2 separate regions of the Homo sapiens genome follow, and region 2 is linked to region 1. Evidence: fine-mapped expression QTL. Tissue or cell type: whole blood. Region 1 holds a variant in brackets; the other region holds the start of a gene. All regions are shown on one strand. Distances are from middle to middle. Region 1 has its middle 67 kb from the start of LMNB1. Region 2 holds the start of LMNB1 (lamin B1).

Region 1 (2,802 bases):
GGGGCTTCCGAGGCAATCAGGCAGTGTGAGTCTTCAGCCGCTAAGCCGAGAAGATCTGGGAAGGAGTCAGTCAGAGAGCCTTGGGCCAGAGTTCCAGGGGCTCTGGGAGTGGCTGCCAGGTGAGTTGAACAGTCCGATTTTCAGTGGGGTCCCACACAGACGGGACGCGGCTTAGGAGGAATCCCGGGCTGCGGGCATTCCTTGGCCCAGTGGCCAGATTTCCAGCAAGTGTAGCAAGCTCCTGTGGGAGGAGGTTCTGGAGGAACGCCTGGCCGCTGCAGTTCAGGCATTTGGAAGTTCTTATGTGCTGGAGATGTGGCTGGGGTTTGTCTCACAGTGGAGGCAAGGAATTGCAACTTTTTTCTATTATGGTACACCTTGAAGGCGAGGTTAATTAAATCCTGTTGTGGGGTTTGAGAGCCGGAATTTAATTTTTGGAGTTTTATTTAATGTCGGGAGCAGATTGGGCAATAAAATGTATTTTGAGAATAAGACGGCCTTTTGACCTTTTAGGGTCTAGGGCTGTAAAGTGTCTCAGGGTTGCTGCCAAACAAGTCATGAACTGGGCTGGATTTTTATATTCGATGAAAAAGAGCCTAAACGCTATCCGATTTGGGATAAAGAAAAAGGAGCATTAACCTTGACTGTGCTTTTAGCTCCAGCCACCTTTTTAAGAGTAAATTGCTGGGCAGGAGGGGGAGGGCTAGTCACGGAACGAAACTGAAAGCCGGACCAGGTGTGAGGAGGGGAGGTGATAAAAAGATTATAGGGTGGAGGAGCGGAGGCTGAGGAAGAATTGGCACCTAGCTCGGCCTGGCGAGGAGCAAGCAGGCTGGGGAGGAAGGGAGAGGTCAGATGGGTCTGTAGAAAAGGAAGATTAGAAAGACTCAGCGACACTTGGGGTTGGTACTGAGGGGACAGGCGGGAGGGAAAGAAGGAAGATTTGGCACGAGTTGCACTGGGCACAGAGACTAGGAAGGGACTGATGTGTAAAAGAATGCCTGGACGTCAGGCACCTCAGACCGTTTGCCTATTTTACGACAAGAATTATTTAGATTTTGCAGGATGGAAAAATTCAAAGTGCCATTTTCTGGCTATTTGGAATTACTGTCGAGTTTGTACTGGGGTCAAGCGGCATTGCAGAAAATAAGGCATTTAGGTTTTAGGTCAGGTGTGAGTTGAAGAGGTTTTAAGTTTTTGAGAACACAGGCCAAGGGAGTAGAAGGAGGAATGGAGGGTGGAAAGTTGCCCATAGTGAAGGAAGCAAGCCTAGAGAAAAGAGAGTAGAGAAACAGAGGGAAGGGGTTCGGGGGTTCTTACCTTCCAGAAAAGTGGGAAAAGGGGTTGG[G/T]GCGCAGAGATAAGAGGTCGGGGTGCGGAAATAAGGGATTGGGGCGCAGAGATATTAAGAGGTTGGGGCGCGGAAATAAGGGATTGGGGTGCAGAGATACGAGGTCGGGGCACGAAAATAAGGGATTGGGACACAGAGATAAGAGGTCGGGGTGCGGAAATAAGGGATTGGGTGCAGAGATAAGAGGTCGGGGTGCGGAAATAAGGGATTGGGACACAGAGATAAGAGGTCAGGGTGCGGAAATAAGGGATTGGGGCGCAGAGATATTAAGAGGTTGGGGCACGGAAATAAGGGATTGGGGCGCAGAGATACGAGGTCGGGGCACGGAAATAAGGGATTGGGACACAGAGATAAGAGGTCGGGGTGCGGAAATAAGGGATTGGGGCGCAGAGATATTAAGAGGTTGGGGCGCGGAAATAAGGGATTGGGGTGCAGAGATACGAGGTCGGGGCACGGAAATAAGGGATTGGGACACAGAGATAAGAGGTCGGGGTGTGGAAATAAGGGATTGGGGGTTCTTGCCCCGTAGAAAAGCGGGACTTGCCACTAAGGGTGAAGGAGAAGGGGTTGAGTGGTACTTGCCCCTCTCCCAGAAAAGCAGAGAAGGGGTAGAGACAAGGAGAGAAGGGGTTGGGGTACTTGCCCCTTCCCCAGAAAAGCGGGACTTGCCGCTAAGGGTGAAGGACAAAGGCAGGCGTCCCTGCGTGGTCTGACACCCTTGAAACGTGGGTGTATAATCAGAGAGGTGTCCCTGCAATGATTAAACACCAAGGGAAGGCTAAGGCTGCCTTCCCAGTCCGTGACTGGCGCCGGAGTTCTGGGTCCACCGATAAAACGTGTCTGCTTTGTCTCTCCCAGAAAATGAAAGGAATTGAAATTAAGAGAAGGGAGAGATTGAAGAGTGGAAAGGAGAAAGTGGTTGAGGGACAGTGAGAGAGGTTGGAGAAGAGAGTAAGAAGAGGCCGCTTACCTGATTTAAAATTGGTGAGATGTTCCTTGGGCTGGTCGGTCTGAGGACCTGAGGTCGTAGGTGGATCTTTCTCACGGAGCAAAGAACAGGAGTACAGGGGATTGATCTCCCAAGGGAGGTCCCCCAATCCGAGTCACGGCACCAAATTTCATGCACGTCTGTGTGAAGAGACCACCAAACAGGATTTGTGTGAGCAACACGGCTGTTTATTTCACCTGGGTGCAGGCGGGCTGAGTCCGAAAAGAGAGTCAGCGAAGGGAGATAAGGGTGGGGCCGTTTTATAGGATTTGGGTAGGTAAAGGAAAATTACAGTCAAAGGGGGTTTGTTCTCTGGCGGGCAGGAGTGGGGGTCACAAGGTGCTCAGTGGGGGTGCTTTCTGAGCCAGGATGAGCCAGGAAAAGGACTTTCACAAGGTAATGTCATCACTTAAGGCAAGGACCGGCCATTTACACTTCTTTTTTGGTGGAATGTCATCAGTTAAGG
Region 2 (2,802 bases), 67 kb before region 1:
ATTACAGGCACCCGCCATCATGCCCGGCTAATTTTTGTATTTTTGTAGAGACGGGGTTTCACCATGTTGGTCAGGCTGGTCTTGAACTCCTGAGCTCAGGTGATCCTCCCCCACTCGGCCTCCCAAAGTGTTGGGATTATAGGCGTGAGCCACCGCGCCCGCCCGGATGAATTTTCAAATAGAAACAATCCAGTTTCCCACATCACACGGAGATTGTGTGGATGGGTAATCCATGAAAAGCCTGGTGCTGGCACTCAGTCCCAATAAATGTTAGCTAAAAATTAGGAACTTTTCAAAGGGATGAATGTGCTTTCTAATAGAAGTAGCTGCCAGTGACATCTTGGGAGCCTCTTTTTAAAAGCAAAAAATTATTTCATCTTAAATTTTCACAAGTTCAGATTTTTATGTACCTGATTTTAACGGAGTATGAAACAGCTTGCTCTCGTAGTTACTCACCGTCATATGTTAATCGTATCATTTCTGAGCTGTTTTTTGATTTTACAAACCCTTAAATTAAGAAACGGATTAGGAACCGCCCATTAACACTGTTGGCAAATGATTTAAAATCAGGGTTGCTGGTTTTTCTGTGATAATCTATCGGCTTCAAGACGCACAGATCTCACTTTCATGGAAAGAAGTTGCCTGATACAGTTTTCCACCGGAGAGAAAAATAAAGGCTGGTACTTGGAACCTGCAAGCCGTGCATTTGGAACCTCGGACTCAAGTGCCTATTACGTAATTCCACAGCGTCCCGGCCTCCAGGCCGTTTCCCGAGCCCTCCAGCGGAGCGGGGGATAAGGTTACCACGCCCGCGGTGGCCGGGGACACTCTGAGTTTCGCGTGTGGCTTTTAGGGACGTTTATATTTGAATTTCCCTGAACCGCCGAGTGTGGGCGGTGGCGCAGATCCGTCCCGGAAACCTCCGGGCTCCTTCCCGCCTTTCTCAGGCCCGGCCCCTCCAAGGGGTCCCCGCGGGGCGGCGGGAGGGCCCTGGGCCCAGAGCCGCGCGGGTGGGCAGTCCCAGGCGTCCTTCCTTACAGCCCTGAGCCTGGTCCGGGAACCGCCCAGCCGGGAGGGCCGAGCTGACGGTTGCCCAAGGGCCAGATTTTAAATTTACAGGCCCGGCCCCCGAACCGCCGAAGCGCGCTGCCTGCTCCCCATTGGCCCATGGTAGTCACGTGGAGGCGCCGGGGCGTGCCGGCCATGTTGGGGAGTGCGGCGCCGCGGCCCGCGCCACCTCCGCCCCCCGCGGCTTGCCTCCAGCCCGCCCCTCCCGGCCCTCCTCCCCCCGCCCGCCGCTCCGTGCAGCCTGAGAGGAAACAAAGTGCTGCGAGCAGGAGACGGCGGCGGCGCGAACCCTGCTGGGCCTCCAGTCACCCTCGTCTTGCATTTTCCCGCGTGCGTGTGTGAGTGGGTGTGTGTGTTTTCTTACAAAGGGTATTTCGCGATCGATCGATTGATTCGTAGTTCCCCCCCGCGCGCCTTTGCCCTTTGTGCTGTAATCGAGCTCCCGCCATCCCAGGTGCTTCTCCGTTCCTCTAAACGCCAGCGTCTGGACGTGAGCGCAGGTCGCCGGTTTGTGCCTTCGGTCCCCGCTTCGCCCCCTGCCGTCCCCTCCTTATCACGGTCCCGCTCGCGGCCTCGCCGCCCCGCTGTCTCCGCCGCCCGCCATGGCGACTGCGACCCCCGTGCCGCCGCGGATGGGCAGCCGCGCTGGCGGCCCCACCACGCCGCTGAGCCCCACGCGCCTGTCGCGGCTCCAGGAGAAGGAGGAGCTGCGCGAGCTCAATGACCGGCTGGCGGTGTACATCGACAAGGTGCGCAGCCTGGAGACGGAGAACAGCGCGCTGCAGCTGCAGGTGACGGAGCGCGAGGAGGTGCGCGGCCGTGAGCTCACCGGCCTCAAGGCGCTCTACGAGACCGAGCTGGCCGACGCGCGACGCGCGCTCGACGACACGGCCCGCGAGCGCGCCAAGCTGCAGATCGAGCTGGGCAAGTGCAAGGCGGAACACGACCAGCTGCTCCTCAAGTGAGTGCTAGCTGGCGGCCGCGTTAGCGCCAAGGAGGGGCGGGGGCGCAACCGCGGCGACCAGCTCACCGGGTTCTGCCGTGGGGAGGGAGCAGAGGCCAGGATGCACGCGTCCTTCTGAAGGAACAGGGTCTCGGTCTCCGGAAAGGAGAAAGAATCTAGAGTTCATAGCGGAGCAGGGGTCGCGGAGGGGGCTCGAGCTGTAGCGCTGGGGGGCCGTGATGCCCATTTCTAGATTTTGGATACCCGCTGGGACGTGGTAAGTGCGCGCCTGGGACTGCCGAGAAGGAGCTCCCGCTTTCGCACTCGAATCCGGGGAGCCGGCGCGGAGAGGCGGCCCCTCAGGCCCCAGGTGCGGGGAGCTGGAGCGCGAGCGCGCGCTCGCGTGCGCGCCCCAGTTTCCGGCCGGCGCGAGACAAAGCGTCTAGCGGATTTGCAGTGCCGGGATGGGCGGCCGGGGAGGACTGGCAGCCCGCCTCTAGAATGAATGAGCTTCGCGCGGGCAGAGAGAGGAAGGGGAGGGACCTTCCCGCAGCATCCGCGTCTCCTGGGGGTGGGTCCCGCTTTGGCGCGCTCAGTCTTGGCCCTGTGACGTTTTGCGAAGATTCTACGCCTGCTTTAGGCGGGAGAGAGAGGCGGAGCTTGATCCGTGCGCCTCCAGCCAGCCCCGGGCAAGTTAGGTTTGCTAGCTGGTTAGCTTTCTCTGGGGAAATGTGTCCTGTCCCAGCGGGGATGGTGCGGTCCCTCGGGTGGTTCTGCGCAGGGAAGGAAAG

Evidence for each region.
Region 2: it holds the start of LMNB1, and the variant in region 1 is fine-mapped to the expression of LMNB1 in whole blood (INTERVAL, PIP 0.96).

Annotation. Positions count from the first base shown.
Region 1 is chr5:126,842,789-126,845,590 of GRCh38, forward strand. No RefSeq gene overlaps it. Among named protein-coding and RNA genes, the nearest start is that of LMNB1, 67 kb to the left of the region's middle. RefSeq lists an enhancer at 2,525-2,802. The variant G/T (reference allele first, on the strand shown) is at 1,349.
Region 2 is chr5:126,775,839-126,778,640 of GRCh38, forward strand. It overlaps LMNB1 (lamin B1), which reads left to right and starts at 1,298. Exons shown (of 11, transcript NM_005573.4): 1 at 1,298-2,029. The coding sequence starts at 1,671. It overlaps LMNB1-DT (LMNB1 divergent transcript), which reads right to left and starts at 648. Exons shown (of 4, transcript NR_134485.1): 1 at 457-648. RefSeq lists silencers at 75-124, 775-1,424, 1,625-1,704, 2,015-2,064, 2,275-2,384 and an enhancer at 1,059-1,859.